Linked DNA regions of Homo sapiens: all the other regions are reported to be linked to region 1. The links are microRNA targets in miRTarBase. Many come from high-throughput screens and were not tested one by one. Region 1 holds a microRNA gene; each other region holds the end of a gene's coding sequence. Distances are from middle to middle.

Evidence for each region. The annotated mature microRNA hsa-miR-665 reads ACCAGGAGGCUGAGGCCCCU and lies in region 1 at 2,768-2,787, opposite strand. An mRNA with a match to its seed (bases 2 to 7 or 8) in the 3' UTR can be bound and repressed. Matches are read on the target gene's strand: a 7mer-m8 pairs with bases 2 to 8, a 7mer-A1 pairs with bases 2 to 7 and ends in A, and an 8mer does both.
Region 2: the mRNA of AHCYL2 is a reported target of hsa-miR-665. Seed matches in the 3' UTR shown: 7mer-m8 at 2,493-2,499 and 7mer-m8 at 3,400-3,406.
Region 3: miRTarBase lists VASH1 as a target of hsa-miR-665. Seed matches in the 3' UTR shown: 7mer-m8 at 3,388-3,394 and 7mer-m8 at 3,641-3,647.
Region 4: miRTarBase lists SLC15A1 as a target of hsa-miR-665. The part of its 3' UTR that is shown has no 7-base or 8-base seed match.
Region 5: the mRNA of ZFP62 is a reported target of hsa-miR-665. The part of its 3' UTR that is shown has no 7-base or 8-base seed match.

What each region holds. Positions count from the first base shown.
Region 1 is chr14:100,873,795-100,877,861 of GRCh38, reverse strand. MIR665 (microRNA 665) reads right to left here and starts at 2,829; the gene lies at 2,758-2,829. It overlaps MIR337 (microRNA 337), which reads right to left and starts at 3,369; the gene lies at 3,277-3,369. RefSeq lists a silencer at 457-667 and an enhancer at 4,021-4,067.
Region 2 is chr7:129,426,189-129,430,255 of GRCh38, forward strand. It overlaps AHCYL2 (adenosylhomocysteinase like 2), which reads left to right. Exons shown (of 17, transcript NM_015328.4): 16 at 255-375; 17 at 851-4,023. The coding sequence ends at 857. Among named protein-coding and RNA genes, the nearest start is that of STRIP2, 6.2 kb to the right of the region's middle.
Region 3 is chr14:76,778,152-76,782,218 of GRCh38, forward strand. VASH1 (vasohibin 1) reads left to right here. Exons shown (of 7, transcript NM_014909.5): 7 at 795-4,067. The coding sequence ends at 867. It overlaps VASH1-AS1 (VASH1 antisense RNA 1), which reads right to left. Exons shown (of 2, transcript NR_104184.1): 2 at 3,582-4,067. Among named protein-coding and RNA genes, the nearest start is that of VASH1-AS1, 6.5 kb to the right of the region's middle.
Region 4 is chr13:98,681,379-98,685,445 of GRCh38, forward strand. SLC15A1 (solute carrier family 15 member 1) reads right to left here. Exons shown (of 23, transcript NM_005073.4): 23 at 2,423-3,537. The coding sequence ends at 3,346. Among named protein-coding and RNA genes, the nearest start is that of SLC15A1, 69 kb to the right of the region's middle.
Region 5 is chr5:180,845,367-180,849,433 of GRCh38, reverse strand. ZFP62 (ZFP62 zinc finger protein) reads left to right here. Exons shown (of 2, transcript NM_001172638.2): 2 at 1-1,823. The coding sequence ends at 642. Among named protein-coding and RNA genes, the nearest start is that of ZFP62, 14 kb to the left of the region's middle.

The DNA.
Region 1 (4,067 bases):
GTTAAGGCCAGGGGCTCAGCTGCAAGAGGTGCAGATCCCCTTTAGTGACCTGGCCCCAGAAGGCCCCAACTTTGACTTGCTGGGTGACCTCAGGTAGTGGCTGTCCATCTTCCAGCCTGTTTTCCCATCATCAAATGGGGGATGTAGTGAGAGGGAGGGTCATTTCCAGAATAACCAGACCCAGTCTCCAAGGGCCGCTGGCTCCTAAAACCCCCTCTGTTCCCAGATGACATTCTTCTTGGGGCTCCCAAGTCCCTTGAAGTAAACTACCTTGGGATAGAGCCTGGGGTCATAATGGAGGGTCCCTAGATCAGGTCTCCTGAAGGCCACCCCTGGGGGGTCCCAGAGGCTGGATTTTAATGGCAAATCTCTGTCCCTGCTTGGTAAGGGCTCCTTGGGTAAATGTGGGGTGGATTGGCAGTCCCCGTGTCCCTGCAGCCAGGACCGTCGACGACCGCCATCCTTTCCTCCTGGCCATCAAAGATGGAGGGGCAAGGCCGGGTGCAGTGGCTCACGCCTGTAATCCCAACACTTTGGGAGGCCGAGGCAGATGGATCACCTGAGATCAGGAGCTCGAGACCAGCCTGACCAACATGGAGAAACCCCGTCTCTACTAAATAACAAAAAATTAGCTGGGTATGGTGGCGCATGCCTATAATCCCAGCTACTCAGGAGGCTGAGGCAGAGAATCGTTTGAACCTGGGAGGCGGAGGTTGCGATGAGCTGAGATCGCGCCACTGCACTCCAGCCTGTGCAACAAGAGTGAAACTCCGTCTCAAGAAAAAAAAAAAAAAAAGGTGGAGGGATGAACAGGACTACCTTGCAGGGTAAGGCCAAACAGAGAATTTACCAGCAGTAATCACCCGTGCCCCACAGTGGGGGAATCCAGACACGCGCTAAGGTAAGCGTATTTATCCACAGTTCACACACACACACACATATTGACTGGGGGCTCCCGGTGCTAGAGTGGCCACGGCCCCCCACACCAGCAGACAGTGAGGACCTCGCCTCCTTGGCTCCCCTGCCCCATCCAGCCACAGCAGGTTTAGTTTACAGAGAAGAGCGGCAGCCCCCAGGCCCAGAGGAGAACTACTGATAAAGTGATACAACGGACTCTGGGGACTCCAGGAAAAGGGTGGGAGGGGGTGAGGGATAAAAGTACAAACTGGGTTCAGTGTGTACTGCTCAGGTGATGGGTGCACGAGAATCTCACAAATCACCACCAAGGAACTTACTCATGTAACCAAACACCACCTGTTCCCCAAAACCTATGGAAATAAAAAATTCAAAAGAAAAATAATACAAACCTTTTTTTCTCCTGGGGAAAGAAAAAGGAAGGTTAATGTTAAATGTCATGCTGGGTTATGACATCATGGCCACCACAAAAAAAGGTGAAAACTCCTCTGAACAGCAGACAGCACAGCCTGGCGCGGACACTGGCACACAGGCCCACGGGACCTGGCGGGCCACAACTAAATGCACCCATCTTCCACCTTCTCTGTCCACCCCCAGGTCACTGATGTCAGGGGATGGAGGGAGCCCTGAGCTCCACTCCTGCTGAGTCTTGTCCATCAACCTCCCTTCCCGACCCAGCCCACCCCCATGAGATGCCCAACGTGCCAGCCTCCAGCCCTGGTGCACACAGGGCCAGTTTCTGGAACACTCAACAGCACACCACCCAGGCAGCTGAGGGCTACTCACCGCTCGGGTCCGGACTCGCTCATCCCTCCTGCAGGCGGCCCCAGGTCCAGTTAGGGCCTTGGACTCAGGCCCCCGTGCCAGGAGCTTGACCAGCTCTTAACAATCTGCCCAGGGCAGAGACGTGAGGTCCCCTCCTGCCCACCTGGTGACCCCGGTTGCTCCCAAAGTGAAAAAGAGAAAGACAACAAATAGAAGCCATCACCCCCACTCCCAAGCTCCACCCACCCGCTCAGAGCCCTGCTGCGGGGACGACAAGACCCTTGTCATGCCCCAAGCCCATGAGCACTGACCTCAGACCCAAACAGTAAGCCTCGTCCAGACCCCTGTCCACCTGTCTGAGATCAACAAAGACAAGCATACCCATCCTGACACCACAGAAGCTGAGGGGTAGACCAGGAAGGGAGCGGGTGCATGGGGGAAGCGGGGGTGAGGAAGGGGAGACGGGAGGTGGGAAGGAAGGGCAGGGGAGAGGGTGCTCCCTCCTGCAGGAAGGGAGGGGGTGCATTGGGGAGGAGGGGTGAGAAAGGGAAGATGGGAGGTGAGTGGGAAGGGCAGAGGTGAGGGTGCTCCCTCCTACAGGAAGAAGGGGTGCATGGGGAAGGAGGGGTGAGGAAGGGGAGATGGGATGTAAGTGGGAAGGGCAGAGGTGAGGATGCTCCCTCCTGCACCCTCTTGTCCTCTCTAATGGCCTCAGCTACTGCAAGGCCTCTCTCCCCACACTGGCTGCCCTGCTGCCCCGATGCTCATGCCTGGGCTGGCTGTCGTGGCTTGTTAATGGGGTTAATGATGCCAATATCACAGGGCTTGGTGCGGGTCACCTCTGCCATGCACAGGACCTGAGTTAGTCAGAGAGGCAGAAGACAGAGGTCCAAGAACCAGGGGCCACGGCCGTGCCCCCTGCTCATGTTGCCATTGGGCACCCTCAGGTACCCAGCCTGAGCAGGGTACGCACAGGGGAAGAAGGGAGCCCAGCTGACAGCTTCTGGGGACCCAGAGTTGGGAATCCTTGGGGAGAGGGGAAATGTCTCCAGAACAGGTTTAAGGAGAGAGTAAGAAGCCGCCTGTGAGGGGCCTCAGCCTCCTGGTCATGAAAGAGTCCTGGGTAGAGGCAGAGACCCCTCGAGGAGACCCTCCTCTTGGGGCACAGAAAGGGCCAGCCCTGGTCCGCCAAAGCCCCACCCCCTCCACCCTGGGCACAAAGGGGCACCATCTCTCCAACGTCTGTCCATCCATCCTGTGGGCCGGGTCCCTTTGGAGGGCTCTGTGTGGGAGCACAGCCCCAGCCCCTCAGTGGGAGAAGCCCCAGGGCTACCCAACTCCCCCTCCGGCCTATCTGCCCTTGGCTGTGGAGTCAGCCCAGGGGGTGTCCCACCAGGGGCATAGTTCCCTGCCAAGGAGGGGCCTCAGAGATGGCCCAGCCCCAGGCCCTCCCCTCCAGGAAGTCAGAGAGCTGCAGAAGAGAGAGAGAAGAGCCCAAGGAGCATGCCGGGAAGAGGCTGGCAGGACAGCAGCGGACTTGAGGACGCGTCCCCGTGCAGCCAAGGGTGCAGAGGAGGGTCCGGGGGCTGCGCGTGGTTGAAGGGGATGAAGAAAGGCATCATATAGGAGCTGGATAACTGTGCATCAACTCCTGTATGAAGCCGTTCCCACCCCCCAACTACTGACTACGGGCCGCAACCCTCCTCCCGGAAGCGCAGTGCAAGCGCTCGGATGGCAGAGGGGACGCCTGCTGCTAGTGGTTAGAGCAGTGACAGCAAGGGACAGCCAGCCTAGGCAGTGCCACCCACTGCTGGGCACCTGCAGCGCTGGGGTACCTGTCCACCCTGCCCAGCCTTGCCCTACCTGCCTCCTATGGCCAGGGCCTGGGCCTCCCTTAGCCCCACAGAGCCCCCAGGTGACTGTGCAGCCAGGCCAAGGGACGGAGGATGGGGAGGTGAAGGGGGAGACAGGCCTGATTCTGGCCCAGGTCTGTGAGTGGACATCGGGGACTCGACCCCACCCACCCACTGCTTTGACTCCCTGGTACTTCTCCAGCCTTGCCTTCTACATCTGTGAAATGGGTTGCAACAGGCACCTCTGGGGACCCAGTGAGGACTCATGAAGTCCAGGGGCACTTCAAGAATTTCCCAGAGACAGAAAGTAGATTTTTGGTTGCTGAGGGCTGGGGGGTGTGCATGGAGGGTGAAGGTGACAGCTGAAGGCTCTGGAGTTCTTTTGGGGGTGATGAAAATGATCTTAAATTGATTATGGTGATAGTTGCAGATATCTGTGAATAACTAAAACACACTTCGCTGTGAGCTTTAATGGGCGGATTGTGTGTATGTGGATTACATCTCAATAAAGTTGTACCCCAAAACACCTTCCTT
Region 2 (4,067 bases), not on the chromosome of region 1:
TGCACTTTTCTGGAAGGCAGGGTTCAAAGCTGAGTTAGTAAGGATGAATTATTAAGGCTTTGGAAAGCACTGGGCTTGAAGCTGAAGGCAGCTATTCCTTAGAATTGAGGACCAGTGAGCGAAGGTTGAACATTTTTCATTCAGCTCCAGGAATTAGAAGGTGTCTTTGAACTTTTTAAGGCCTAGCTTGGGGACAATAGCCATCAGATAAAAGGCATGAATGCTTATACCAGGGCTTCTGTGGTCTGTTCCAGATGAGTATGTGGCCAGCCTACACCTGCCTACCTTTGATGCCCACTTGACAGAGCTGACAGATGAACAGGCCAAGTATCTGGGACTCAACAAGAATGGGCCCTTCAAGCCTAATTACTACAGGTGCCTTGGGCTCCCCAGAAATCAGGGACACCTGGGCAGTGATGAGCTTCCTGCACTGGAATTGGTCTTTGCATCCCCAACCACATATGCTTACATGAACTCAGAAAAATGAACCCACTTCCCCTCACTGCCACCTTCAAAAGACTCTTCAAGGCCTTAAATAGTATTCCCCTTCCTGAATTTGCCTTTTGGAGATAGAGAGGTGGAGTTTGGGTAAGTGGCTATTTGCCTCATTAAATAAAGTTCCCCTTCCTCAATTCCTTTCCCCATTTCATCTTGTTGCTATGATTTTTATCTCTTTATGGAGAAATATTGGCCTTTTTCAATGATGTGAAAAGGAAACACAGTTATTTCCTGTCACTGTACACTCCAGAAAAGTCTCTGCCTCCCTGTTACACCTTTAGGCAGGCTCTTCATGTCCCAGCATCCCCATTAGCTGATAACATCACAGTCTCATCTTTCTTTTTCCCTCCAGGTATTAAGTTCCTGTAACTCAAACCAGAATTTTTAAGGAATAGAACTCCAAGCCTTTTCTCCACTACTATACAAGAAAGAATTCAGCAAGCTGCTTCTCCAATCAAAGCTGCCTGCCGTGCTCACCCTGTGTGTTAGGTTATTTATTTATTAAAATCAAGAATCCTGTGCCTGTAGTGTTGGCCCAGAGTGTGGTTACTGCCCTGAGGGCCATGAAAGCCACAGAGGATGGGCTGAGGAAGGAAAGAAATGGGGTTACTGCTCCCAGTGCATCATTTGCATCATTCCCCATTGACTGAATCCTCAGCAGTGGCCGTTTTTCCTCTTGTCCAGGCTCACGAGTTAGTCCAGGGATTCCATACTCCCTATTCCCTGGAGTTTTCTGGAATAAATTTTCAGCACCTGCTTTTCTCAGCTTGGCCCTTCCCCGGGTGAGGCCGTTTGGAATTAACATGGCCAGTGTTTCACACAAGATTGGGTTCCCAATCTTGACCATCACTATCACTGCCTTCTTTATATAAAGGCTAATAAGGAAGGAGTGTTATTTATGGCTTTGCCAAGCTACATCAAGAACTCAGCTGTGCTGTGCCTACCAGGGGTCTCCTTTCTTACCCAGGACTCCTTTCTTCTCCTTGAATATTTATGTCCATTTTAACACTTCCTGGTTGCAAGAGGGATGTGCCTCCATTATTTCCTCCACAGTTTTGGTATTTGTCAGACATTTGTTCTGCTGTCTTTCTAATCCAGCCAACGTCTGCTCAGGAAGTGGGGCCAGCTCCACTGGGACCCATAGTTTTACTTCCTTGTCATTTGATTGGATAGTTTCCAAGGAAGCCCCTCCAGATTGGCACTATCTCAGAAAAGGAGAGCTTGTTGTGAAACACTGCTTCCTGAAACTTCCTGCTATTGCCTAAAGCTACGTCTGAAACTGAGTAGGGAAAGGCATACTTTTCCAGGGACTTAGGGGGATAGGCTTTGGAAATGGGACAGGTCTTTCAGACTCACAGCTTGATACCCTAACAAAGCAGAGTATATTTATTTGTTTCCCAGGAAGGCCATTGCAGTTTGACTGGCTGAGGGATACAGAGATGAAATTGTAAACTGTATCCAGATTATCAAAGCTAATTTGACTAGTTTGAACCTCGTCAGACATTCATTCCTTTGGCCATTGCCATGGATGAAACCGAGATCTGCAGTCTGATCTGTGGACTTCTCTGCTGGCATATCTTTTATGATTTAACCTCTTCCATTTGATGATTCTGTATTTCAGAGTCAGTTTCTTGAGTAACTCCAGTGCTACAAAAAGAATTAGTAATGTGGTGTGGGCAGCGTGACATTTTATGTCCCACCCAAAAATTGGATTCCTTTTGGAGACTGATCTGTTGGTCTCAGGCATTTCATTAGGACCAGATTGGTTCTAAGAGTTAGTCTGGACTGGCCCTAGGAAACTTGAATTAAATAAGCCTCTTCCCCTTACCGATCCTTTTTAACACTCTCAGGTTTGTTTGTTTCCCACTTTTTTCCTATGCTGGTCTGCCTCAAAGTCTCAAGACCAAGGTGACTCAAGATAACACCAGACCACGCATGATCACCAAAACCTTCCCATCCTGATTCTCTTCTTCTACCTCTACCCTCTCCAACTTCTCCTGGTCTTCACATATACTCTCAAAGCTAGTCTGAAAGTGACCTTACTTTCGGAAGTAGGGAAGTGGAACTTTGGTAAATGACTGTTTGCCTCATTTAATAGTATACAGGCTCAGCCCATAGACTACAGTTCTTCAGAGGCCATATGTCTCAGCAAGTACTGGTTATATTCTTTTTTTGTAAGGAAGATCATAAATGCTAAAAATTCCACTAAGCCATTCAGTTCTTCCTTTTGCCTACCTAGTCCTGATTTTTGTATTAATTGGTTCCCTTTAGCAAGGGATTCAGATCTTTGTACCTTATCTTATATCCAGAGCAGATTCCATTTGGCAGATAGATGGTCTCTAGCCTATTGTATTCTTAGACCAAAAATCATAACCTGCTGTTTCTCAGCAAAGCCTTGCTCTCTGGAGCTTACTATGTGCTGGTACTTAAAGAGTACATTCTGCCTTGCTGTAGTGAAGAGACCCACTCCAAATAAAAAAGGGGCCACACGGGGCTTCTAAGTTAGGTTGCCAGTGTTGCTGCCCATGATGAGTTATTTGCCTCTGAGTTTCAGATGACCTCTCTGTAGGGACACTGTGTTATCAACCATTAAGAAGAAAGAACCACAAGCCTCCCAAGTATTTGGGTTCTATCTTAGGGTTGAAATCTGGTCATTATTCCCTCTACCCTTGGAATCAGAGCAATGTGTCTTCTTTCCTCCAACCTCTTACCTTAGATGCATCCTGGTTATCTGGAAGCATGGGAAAGAAGGCTACTTATCTCTTTGTATGTGGCTCCAGTCTGTGAGGATACATAACATTTTCTCTACAATGAATCTGTGCTAATATTTTGCCTTCTTTCTTTCTTTTCTTTTCACCCTTAGAGACAGGGTTTCACTATGTTGCCCAGGCTGGTCTCAAACTCCTGGGCTCAAGCAATCCTCCTGCCTCAGCTTCCTGAGTAGCTGGAACCACAGGTGTGTGCTACCGTGCCTGGCACTTTTTTGCCTTCTTAATGGAGATATTCAGTTTTCTTTTTTTCATTTAAACAAAGAAAAAAAATGTATCTACTCTACCTTCCCTCTGCTCTCCTCCCTCCCTATCCTACTTGCCCATATGAGCACGGCTCCCCATGGCCACATACTCCTGCAAAGCTTTTATGCTGCTTCGCTTTTCTCTAAACAGATCTGATATTGCTGCTCCTGTGGTTTTCTCAAAATTAACTTTGCCGTGGTTTTTAAAAAGGAATCAAAATGCATTGTTGCATTAAGCTTTTTCAATAAAGGAAAATTACGGAAGGAAAATAGGCAACACCAGCAAATTATATGTGGACAGGTTCTAAACTCTATATATACATATATATATATATATCTATATATCTATATACGTAATCATCTAGTTCTGTCATCTTACTGAAAGGAATAACACTTCTAAAGATCACCATTTCTGAGAAGTTCTTGGAAATCTTTATGTCTAAGTGATTGTATTAGATCAGCAATAATGACTATGTAATCTCAAAAAACAAATAAAATATTCTTAACATGGACTCTTAAGGGTATTTCTTGTTTCTGTGAACTAGAAATTCAGAGA
Region 3 (4,067 bases), 24 Mb from region 1:
TATCTCTCTCCCACCCTTCTCTCTTTTTCGCTCCCACCCAAGGGAGGTGACTTGGGATGGTGGGTTTAGAGGTTTGTGTATTGACATTTCCCACAGCAAGGCAGTTCTACTTCCCCAGAGAAACCAAACTCTGCTAGCCCACTAGTCTGAGCATGGGTTATGTGAGAGAAAAGGTAGAAAGGATGGGGCCCCTGCAAGGCAGTGAGCCACCCAGGAATGTCATGGGGGAGGGCGTGAATATTAGATGGCTTTGAACATAACTTTGCCCCCCACCCAAGAGTCTGGTTTTTGTCTGTATCCAGGTAGCAAGAACAAGCCATTGAAATACCAGCTCTCCTCCTCTGATTTCAGCTCCTACACATCACTCTGACTCTTGCTTTAAATATAATTGTCATTCAGGAGCCACCTCTCTGGTATGAATTCAGGGGTGGGGTACTAAGCAGGCCTCTGGCACCAAAATATCCATCATCTGTGACTTTTATCTAAGAGGCTTTTGTAGATGACAGATTCCCCTCAGACAGATTTATACTTTAAGCTGTTACCTACCAACTGCAGCCAGATTAGCCAGCCTCCAGCAGCGAGAAAGCCTGTGAGAGCGAGCCGGGGCCACATTCAGACAGCACAGGCGGGCCAGGGTGTCCAAAAACACACTTCCATACGCACTGTGCTGTGCGTTGGAGGGCCACTTGGAGAATGTGGCGGGGAAGCCACCAGGCAGCCGCTGCTGGCTCCCCAACTCCATCTCCCTAACAGACCACTCACTCTCCTCCCGCTCTGCTCTCTTCCTCCCACAGGCCCTCGGGTGACAAGAAGACTTCCGAGCCCAAAGCCATGCCAGACCTTAACGGGTACCAGATCCGGGTCTGAGGCGGATGCCAGCACCCCAGGCCCCACCCACTCTTGGGGGCCAGGATCCACCTGCTGGAACCAGCCTTATGCATGGGGAAGGCGGGGCTGGTGACAAGGCAGGGCAAGAGGCTGCAGGAAGAGTGTGTTCCAGCTCAGCCCCCCAAGCTGCTCTCGCTCCCACTGAGCCAAGCCCCCTAACTTTGGGCCTAGAGGCCGTTAGTATTTTATTTGGAGTTTTTAACTCTACAACTGAAGTTTAAGGTATTTGGGGAAAACTTAGTCCAAATGGATCTGCTGATGGTGGGAAGGCCAGTGCTTAACAAATCCATGTGTCATGGGGCCAGGTGAGGGAAACTGCTGGTTCTGCTGGTGCCTCTGCCCCTGGCTTCTCTCTGGGAGTTGGGTGCATCTTATCAGTGGGAAATCTCCCAGCCTTACCAGGCCTGTGATGGGGGGTGGGGGTGGGGTGGAGATGTTTCTCCAGTTCTGCCTGCCCTGGCAGAATCTTGACCCAGGGAAAGGGAAGCAGGGTAGGAGTCCTTCTGAGAAAGGTCTGTGTAGCCCATTAACCAGGAGCTTGGCACAGGCCACATCTGCCCCAAGAGCATGAGCTCGTGGCTCAGGAGAGCCTTCAGGCCCTTGAGGCCCCCATGGGCAGTGCTGTGTGGGCAGAGGAGGGGTGATATGAGAGCGAGCCCAGGGAAGGACCTCTGGGCAAAAAGTTCCCAGGCCCTAACTGCGTCTACTTGCTCAGTCCCAGCTCTGCCTGTTGCTCTAGCCCACAGGCTCCCTGCGGAGGGTCTGGGCTTGGCGGAGGACCCAGAATGGCACTGAGGCCAGCATGGCTGTGGGAGTTGAGCAAACCCTGGGTGCCAGTCCAGGAGCTGTGGCTGGACATGGGGTGATGGGGCGGGATGCTTGGGCCTGGGTCTCTCCGCCAGCAGTGCCAGGAGCCCTTGCTGGGGAAATCAAGACCAGACTAGGATGCTTCTGCCCCAGGCCTGCCTTCCATTCTTTAACAGCCCATCTTGGCTTGGGGTTGCAATGATGGCTGGGCCAGTCACTTGTGGCAGGGCATCAGGGCCCTGGCAGGGAAGAACCTAGGCACCTGGGGTTGTCCCCAGCCTGCCCGTCAGCATGAGATACCCAGTGGGAAAGTGAGAGGATGCGGAGAGGTTGGCAGAGCCAGGGGTAGGTTCTGGAGGCTCAAGCAACAAGGAGGTGCAGGTAAAGGGTGCAGTGCAGCCACTGAGGGACAGCTGGGAACTGGGGGATGCAAGTGAGAAAGGGATGTGGGGGAGAGTTCAGGATCAGGCTGCTTGAGGAGTAATGGGTTACCTACAGCAGAGACGAGATGGCTGTTTGTCAGGAGGCGGTAGAAAGGTAGAAAGGATTCAGATTGTGGAAGGGTAAACGGATGAGATGACCATTAAGGTTTTGTTTTACTGAGAGGCTGTAAGTCTGCCAGGGACAGCTGTCAGTAAGGCTGCAGAAGGGCTGGGGGGCTACACAAGGAAGAGCAGAACTAGGGTTGTAAGCTCAAATGACGAGCAAACGGTGAGAAGGAGGCCTGAAGGGCTGTGTGGGGACTATGGCTACCTGAAGAGGGCACACCCTGTTAAAGGGGCCACAGCTGCTCAGCTGTTCTTACAGTGCCGGCCCTGTGTTGCCAGATTGTCTGCTTTGTCAGAGGCCAGAATTCTGACTTTTTATGTGAAATAGGATTTTTAAATGCTGGTGATCACTTAAAAAAAACTTAAAAACCCAATACTGGCAAAAGAGGATGCCAGTTTGCAATCCCTGAAGTAGAGAGAGCTCGTGCTGGGGAGAAGTCCACCAAGATGCTTTGAGGCGGGCTGTAGCAAAGTCCTGTTTCTCAGAGCTGGGCTGGGCTGGGGTAGGATCCTTGCAGCTGAGGAGGAGGAAAAGCCACTGAGTCTCCTCCCAGAGCGGGACAAACCAGAGGCCCTTTGCAGTTGCTGGGTCACCAGCGGGGGTGGCGCATGGAGTACAGACAGTGTAGCTCTTGGCCTGCCAGGGAGACGGATGGTGCCTTTGAAGCAAAGAGGAAGGGAAGGCAGAACCAGGGATGCCTTTGCTGATGAGAGTGCCTGTCAGGGAAGGCGCCACAGGCTGGCAGCTCTTCAAACCAGCAGCGCTTGACCCAGAGCCAGATCCAGCATGGCCTGGCCAGAGGCACCCTGGGAGGCCAGCTGGTCAGTCCCTTGCCTCCCCAAGTTCCCCCTGGGGTCAATGAGCCCTGGGAGGATGCCTAACCTAACTCCAGCCAGACTAATAGGGGCATGGTGACCCTTGACTCACCATCCCATCCCAGCTTTCAGGGAGTGGGGGTAGTGTGGTCTCCATGTTCCTACTATGCCTAAGAAGAGATGGCTCACCTTGGGAGGTGCCAGGCTGAAACTAGGTCCTTTCCGGGTCTGGATGCTGCCGCTCAGGAGCAGGGGCGTGGCCTCAGCTGCCTCTGGGAGCTTCCCGGGAATGACAGGGTTTGAGGGGAGTAGATATGAGAGGGAGCCGCTCCTGGTTCTGGAGTCTTAGGAGGTTCCAACTTGCAGGATCCTTTCCCAGAGCCCTCCATGGAGAAAACAGCAAAATGAAGCCCTTACCTGCTTGCTGTCTGCAAGGGAGGGAGCCGAGCCCCAGCTGATAATCCCCCAGCACTCACCCTTCCTGAGCTGAGACTTCGGGGCTGTGGAGACCAGCACAGGACATAGTGGTGCTTTTTAAATTTATTTTTAACTGTTTCTCATATGTAGCAACCCCTCCTCCCCTCCTGGGCATGTTTACACAGGCTCTGCTCTGGGGGCTGGCCTGGCTGTGAGGTTTCTGGGGAGGCAGAGAGGCAGGGACTTTGGGGCCTTAGTCACCATCCATGGTATCACCTCATCTCACTTCCTGTGAGGGACAGGGCCTGGCTGATGTGATCCCAGCTCCCCCCAGTTCAGGACTGTCTTTCAGCTCCTTTGCCCCTGGAGGTGGGGGCTGCTGGCTGAGGAGGGGTCAAGGTGAGTTCAAGAAAGCTACCTGTGGAAAATGGACCAGGTTGGGGGGGTGATTGCAAAGTCTCCCCAAAGCCTGGCTCCTCATGCTCAGTGCCAGGGGCAGAACACTGGGGAGCCAGGTATAGAGAGCCTTCCTGTCATAACTGCCAGTCCTCTTCCTCCAAGGCCTCTGCATATTCTCATGTTCCCCTCACC
Region 4 (4,067 bases), not on the chromosome of region 1:
GTTACTCACACGCAAAGAACACTATGTGTTAATATCAGACTTGGTTGAGGGGCATGACAACGACCTTCATTCAAATATATGAATGCCTGTTGTGTGCCAGGCACCCTTAAACAAAGGATTTATTTTTTTATTTTTATTTTTATTTTTCTTGAGACGGGGTCTCACTCTGTTGCCCAGGCTGGAGTGCAGTGATGCGATCTCGGCTCACTGCAACCTCCGCCTCCCGGGTTCAAGTGATTCTGCTGCCTCAGCCTCCCGAGTAGCTGGGATTACAGGTATGTGCCACATGCCTGGCTAATTTTCGTATTTTTAGTAGAGATGGGGTTTCACCATGTTGGCCAGTCTGGTCTCAAATTCCTGACCTCAAGTGATCCACCCGCCTCGGCCTCCCAAAGTGCTGGGATTACAGGCGTGAGCCACTGGACCCAGCCAAACAAAGGATTTTTAAGGCCTCACATTGTCTGCCTGGTATTCTCTTTATTTCACAGGAGAGGAAATGATTAAAAAGATCAAAACCTGCCCAAACTTATACTGCAACTATAAGAGTGGAGCACTAGGGCTGGGTGCTGTGGCTTATGCCTGTAATCCCAGCACTTTGGAAGTCTTAAGCCCAGGAGTTCGAGACCAGCCAGTGAGACCCTGCCTTTACAAAAAAAATTAAAAACTTAGCTGGGTGTGGTGGCACAAGCCTGTAGTCCTAGCTACTTGGGAGGTTGAGGTGAGAGGATCCCGTGAACCTAGGAGTTCAAGGTTGCAGTGAGTTATGATCGTGCCACTGCACTCCAGCCTGGATAACAGAGTAAAAACTTGTCTCTTAAAAAAAAAATTAAAAATTAAAAAACAAATAGAGGATTACTATGTTCTGGAGACTGAACAGTGAACAAGATATACAGAAGAGCTTTTGGTCTAGGAAAAGCTAGATAGTGATGATCCACTGAGGTCTGTGCAACTTGAAAATGTGAAGCTGTGTTATGGGAGCTCAGAGCAGGGCCACAGCCTAGCATGGGAGGGAGGGAGGACAGGAAAACTCTTGGAGGACATGGCATGAAAATGAAGAGGGCTTAGCCAGGTGGAGGGGTTGGGGGTGGTGGAAATTAAGTATCTTGGGGTATTCTTTTTCTTGCCTTTTGACTTGGGAATGAGAATGTGATGTGTTCCAGGAAGGAGCAGCAGCTCCATGCTGGCAGGATCAGAGTGCATGGAGAGAAAGGAAGTGTGTCCAGAGGGAAAAAGAGCCTCATGGCCCCTAGTTAAGGAATTAGGACTCGATCCCAAGGCTAGAAAAAGTGTTAAGATTTGATAATCACATTATGTTTCTCACTCTGGACTTTGAGTCTCCCCTTCAATGCAGCCCCTATGGTGCAATGGCGAGCTTGTATATAAGCATTTTAGAGGCCAAATGCGAACTCTTCCTTCTAATGCAGGAACCAGTTTCAATCATCAGAGTTGCGCACTAGTTTGTCTAAGAACTGTGGCTTGTTTGTGTAGGAGTGCCAAGGTAGACTCATTCTGGACCTGATACCTGGGATGGCTAAATGATAAACATCTCTAGGATAAATTAGGCATTAGGTGTTTAAAATGTTTTAGAAGAATTTTTACGCCAGCAGGAAATGTTTGTGAGTATCGAGAAAAACACTAGGAGATGGTACACAAATGTGCACATAGGACGGTCCTAGTAATATAAGTCTCTCCTATCTATCTATCTAATCTATCTATCATCTACCTGCCTACCTACCTACCTACATTTATCTATCTATCTATCATCTATCTACCAACCTACCTGTATCTATCCATCATCTATCGATCTATCTATCTTCTTCTTTTTTTTTTTTTTTGAGATGGAGTCTTGCTCTGTCGCCCAGGCTGGAGTGCAGTGGTGTGATTCCAGCTCACTGCAAGCTCCGCCTCCCAGGTTCACGCCATTCTCCTGCCTCAGCCTCCCCAGTAGCTGGGACTACAGGCGTCTGCCACCACACCCAGCTAATTTTTTATATTTTTAGTAGAGATGGGGTTTCACCGTGTTAGCCAGGATGGTCTTGATCTCCTGACCTCATGATCCACCCGCCTCTACCTCCCAAAGTGCTGGGATTACAGGCGTGAGCCACTGTGCCCGGCCTATCTATCTATCTTCTATCTACCTACCTACCTTTATCTGTTTGTCTGTCTATCTATCTATCGATCATCTACCTACCTACCTTTATCTGTTCATCTATCTATCTAATCTATCTATCTATCATCTATCTATCTGCCTATCTACCTTTCTTTATCTGTTTGTCTGCCTATGTATCAATCAACCAATCAATCAATCATCCCTGGGGAAAACAGGACCAGGAAGAAATTTTAATGAGCAGGTGCTGCTTTTATAATCAGATAGGATGTTAAAGATTTCTTACCCTACCCAGAGATACATGAACACTTAGGCTTAAGAACAGAAATTTATTTCACACCATTGAAACTTCAAAAAAATCATTACTGGCCTTCACCTGAGCTGTCTTTCGAGTTATCCATAATTTAAACACAGGTAGGGACTAGAAAAACAAAATAACAAAAACCCAAAGGTAAAGTTATCAGTTAATACCAGCTGGTCCTTATCACAGCCATTTCAAACCTGTACGTTCACTTTTGGCCTTGGCTCCTGCCTCCTTTAGAATAGTTTTCGTAAGAGTATTAGAAATGAACAGTATGGAATAGGAAACTTTGTTACCATTTCAAAATTAAGCTAGTCCAAAATAACATCATTTGTGTGATAGGGAAGATGACCAATGTGGGGTGGGCTCACAGTACTCTAAGACAGTGTGTGTACGTGTGGCTTAAATAAGCCTTTCAAACAGAAGACTTCTTCCAGAGTTTTAGATTCACTGCTGGCTGCTTAGAAAATAGCGTTCACGGCCGGGCGCGGTAGCTCAAGCCTGTAATCCCAGCACTTTGGCAGGCCGAGGTGGGCAGATCACCAGGTCAAGAGATCGAGACCATCCTGGCCAACATGGTGAAACCCCATCTCTACTAAAAATACAAAAATAGCTGGGCGTGGTGGTGCATGCCGCTAATCCCAGCCACTCGGGAGGCTGAGGCAGGAGAATTACTTGAACCTGGGAGGCGGAGGTTGCAGTGAGCTGAGATCGTGCCATTGCACTCCAGCCTGGACAACAAGAGCAAAACTCTGTCTCAAAAAAAAAAAAAAAAAAAAAAAGAAAAGAAAAAGAAAAAAGAAAATAGCATTCATGGTTTAGTTCCCAATTCTGAAGTCTTCCTCATCAGGGGCCATCCAATGGAGTGTCCTGCTACCTGGGGGCAGAGGTCAGGGCATCTGCGGGCCCAGTCCATCCTCCACTTGCCTCCTGACCTTCACATCTGTTTCTGTGAATTGGCCCCTGACATGAAATATGGGTTACTCTTTTCCAGTCTGTTTTTCTTTTCATCCTCATCAAATTGAGCTTCGATCTCCGCTGGGTTGATGTAAGTATAGAACCGAGCCATGATGGCAAAAATTACACAGACGACCAGAAGCAACGCGGCAAATAGAATGTACTCGGCCCACTTTGAAGAAATCAGAGTTGGAGCAGGAAAAAGAACAAAAATAAAACAGGTCATACTGATGAATATATGGTGCGTACATGTTCTTGCTACATGCAGATGGAGAGTGCTTTGAAATTAAATTATGGAAAATTGGTAAGCAACCAATACAGATACAGTAAGCCCAGCTTTTCTGGAATGCCCAAGATAGATAGATGCTAATATAGACAACATGTTTTGAACAGCACTAAGGTACAGAAACAACAGACTTTGGGAAGATGAGAGAAAATTTCTGAAATACTGAAGCCTTAAGACATGTGGCTGGACCTGGAAGGATGGGGACCAAGAGAACAGCAAGCAGTCCCCACAAGGGAAAAATGAATATGCTGAACTCCAGCAAGTTAAGAGCCCCACGTTCCTCCTTGGAAACACCTGGAGCTCATAAGCACACAGCATTAGCACATCTGCTGCTGGGACCTGGTGCAGGAAGTCATGAAACGGATGGGATAACAGCTCCCTTATGAGGCAGACATGCTACAGTGCAGAAGGAAAGA
Region 5 (4,067 bases), not on the chromosome of region 1:
CTTATTAACCATAAGAGTACCCACCCTGGCAGGACACCCCATACATGTGATGAATGTGGAAAAGCTTTTTTCTCAAGCAGAACTCTTATAAGCCATAAAAGAGTCCATCTTGGGGAGAAACCCTTCAAGTGTGTTGAGTGTGGGAAATCTTTCAGTTACAGCTCTCTCCTTTCTCAGCACAAGAGGATCCACACAGGGGAGAAACCCTATGTGTGTGATAGGTGTGGGAAGGCCTTCAGGAACAGCTCAGGCCTCACAGTGCATAAAAGGATCCACACAGGTGAGAAACCCTATGAATGTGATGAGTGTGGGAAGGCATACATCTCACACTCAAGTCTTATCAATCATAAAAGTGTCCACCAGGGGAAGCAGCCCTATAATTGTGAGTGTGGGAAATCCTTCAATTATAGATCAGTCCTTGACCAGCACAAAAGGATCCACACTGGAAAGAAGCCATACCGATGTAATGAGTGTGGTAAGGCTTTTAATATCAGATCAAATCTCACCAAGCATAAAAGAACCCATACTGGAGAGGAATCTTTAAATGTGATATATGTGGGAAGTTATAGTGGCACATCCCAGAAGAGAACCTATGAGGGAGGGAATGCCCTGGATGGGGGCAGGATGAGGATGCCTCTGTAGCAGGCAGAGCTTACCAAGTCTCTCCGAACTCAAATGGAAGAAATACCTTATGAATGTAAGAATGTAGGGGGTCATGGCTTGTAATTTACACAGTGTAAATGAAACCATCCTAGAGGATTATGAGGAATCCTTTCTATGTGATTTTCAATCATAGCAAGCAAGAAAGGCTCCAGTGTCAAGGTAGTTCAGCTCTTACAGGATATAAAACAGTCCATACTTGAGAGAAAAACTTAGATCTGAGTGATGGAATGTGAAGCAAATCTTCAAAATCAGTAGACATTTCTGGACATAAAACACAGATGAGGAAAGGGCTTCAATTAGAAGTTACGTAATCACCATCAGAAAGTTCATGTTTGGTAAATTCTGTTACTAGAAATGTAGGAAATTCAGGTATAGCTTTGAATCCCAATTACACATTGGTCAGTGGGAAAACTAAGGGCCTCCAACAGGCAAATTCAGGGAGGATAGGTTTCAGGGAATATAAATTTATTTAATATTAGTGGTCTTTAAGTATAAACTTGATGTAATTGGTTTGGGAGGGGGCAGTGATGATGACTTCTGAAACAAAATTTGGATTTCCTTTTAGGAAAAGTAGAAAGCATAGACTTACAAGTCTAACAGGAGATAGGAGAGAGTCACTCATAAAAAATGCAAATTGATGAACGTACTATTGTGATACATTAGTTGAATGGATGAAACTTTTTTAAAGTTTCAGATGAACTCCCATAATGAATGATGAATTTGTGATGAGGGATAACCTGGAAGTGGTATTCACACATTATGCTACAATAAAAGGTTCTACCGTGGAGAGGATTTTGACACATTCAGTAACTAATGGAACACACCGTCAACATGAATTCGCACCTTACATGACAGAAGTGATTCAGGGATTCCTATGAATAGAAATGCTGAGAAGGAACGCATTTTATTGCAGAAGCTAAAAAGCTAAAGTACCAGTCATCTAGAGAGAAGGAAATTAATGTTTCTTAATAATCCTGTTAAATGTTTGATTGTTTTTGGAATGTGTTATTGTAAAGATGTCATGCAGGACATGTATATGTTGTCTGTTGTAAAATGTTAACGAATACTTTGTTCAGGGCTCACTCTCTCTTTGTCATGAAAGCCAGCTCCTTGTGGCGAGGTAAAGTGGAATTCCAATAAAGAAATTCCTTAAATCAAAACGGGCTGTGAGTTTAGATGGAGGATACCCAAGAGCCATTTGTGTGCCAGATCTTTGTTGGGTAAGTTATACCAGATCCAAACCAGAGAGGGTAGTAGACTCATCCCACAGGGCTAGCAGCTCAGCTGGTTTCACCAGAAGTTAGAAGGTGCCTCCCTAGGAGGAGCACAGGATAGATTTTGAGGGGACCACAGTGGAGCCATGTGATCGTCGTTACTGGGCCAGATCCTAACTCGGGAGCAGGTAGGTTGTGTGAGTGATCAGTCACCACACACAGCTCTGTCAGGAACATGTAGAATTGAACATAAACTACTGCTGTGTATGAAGCTGTTAACTAGGTAACTCAAAGGGTAAAAATAGACTCTTCTGAGAATTGAGTAACCTGTCTGAGAATACTGTGAGTGGGCCAATCAGCAAAGGCTGAATTTGAAGTCTGGTATCTGGTTTCAAAACCCATTGTCTTTACAAGAGAACAATCTCAGCCATGTAGTTTCCCATCTCCTTCTGGGACTCCTATCTCTGTAGCCAGATAGTTTCCATGCTCTTTCTAGGAGTATATTTGTTTCACTTTGTATCCAAACCCCTACCAGTAAGTTTTGATGGCTGCGGTGGGGAAGGGTGGAGTTGAGGGAGGAAAGGGAGATGGAGCATTTCTACCACTGCTCCACTTGGACTGTTCTGATCATACTTGCTCTCTATCCTCCTTTGCACATGACACTGGCAAGCCTGACCCTATACACAGACTTGGACTGATTTATTCAGCAAATACTTGAGGATCTACTAGGCACTGTCCCTGTCCCAGGTACTGGGTGGGAGAGGATGGCAGCAGGAGTAGATTCTGGTAGATGAGGATGAATAAAGGGAGAAAGGCTGTGAGCACAACCACCCTAATGGATGAATTAAGACTGCAGGTGCTCAGAGGACAGCGACTAGGACCAACCAAGAGGGAGGAATTGGTGACATCTGGGCAGGACGTTGAATTGGGTTTTCTGAGAGGAGTAGGAACTAGGATGACCTGAGTAAAGGCAGCTACGGAAGTGCCCAGGCATCCTCCAGCAAGGCTGGTCTCTGGCAGGGCTGATGTGTGGGCAGGAAGGAGGGTGCCATGGAGTACTCGTTCCCCGTAGTCGTGGGGACATGGATTGGGCTTCTTTTTGCTGAAGATGAGACCAGCTTTGGTTGTTTTTAACCTGAGGTTTCCATGTGCTCCTCACACAGGAGAGCTCCCGTACTTGAGCTCCAGCTGAACCTAATGCACTGTCTACTTTTGGGGAGATGCAGGCTAAATAACAAAGGAGAGGATGGCCACAGCTCAGGTGGGGATTCTGAGTGCCTCAGCCCCACTAAGCACCAGACAAGCTCCTACTGCGGCCCCCATCTACTCGCATGCTCCAGAAATGGGCCCAGGTCCTCAAGTGTACCTACAGCCAGATACAAGCCATTCAGGCTGATCCCAGACATGGTGGGGTCTCCCTTGTAGCACAGACCCAATGAACTGGTGCGGCTGAGCCTGCTCAGACCAGGGATGGAACATGGTTTAGGCACCACCCCCGGTTCCTTCCAGAGAACGATATGCAAGTGGGAAAAATAAAGGGGGAGGGAAAAGCGGGGAGGAGAAAGAGAAAAGAAAAGCCTGAAAAAACAGTGAGTATGGAATAGCCTTCCATAGGAGTGCATGTCTCTATTAGCAAATTTGTCTGAAGGTGAAAGCCTGGAAAATAATTTCATGTTTTGTGTATGAAGACACTGGGCGTGAAACGGTACTGAACACCAATCCTGCAATGCAGGGGAATTTTCCTCCGTGGGATTCAGAAATGAGAGGATCACCACCAGGACAACACCTGAAGATGGTGTTAGCTGAAGGCAGACATTGGGGACCTGAAGTCTGTCTGCATCAAGACCTTGAGTAATTGGCCACAGCTGTACCCAAGGAGTTCCTGGGCTGGGGAGACCCTTCATTTCTCTTCTCCAGCTTCAGCTAAAGGCCTAGAGACATGGAGAAGGAAGCAGAATACAGTACTTCAATTGTCTTCCTACTGAGGAGCCATTCTCATTTAGACCTGGCGGTTCTCAGGTCTGGATAGTGTCATTGTGCGAAGGAAGCCGTTTGCATGAAACCTGTGTAGAGTCAGTGAAGTATAGTGGCCGAGGACATGGTCTCCACAAGGAAGCCTGAGTTCAAATAAGGACTTTCACTTATTTCCAGATGACTTTAGGCAAGTAACTAAACTTGTGTGTCCTCACG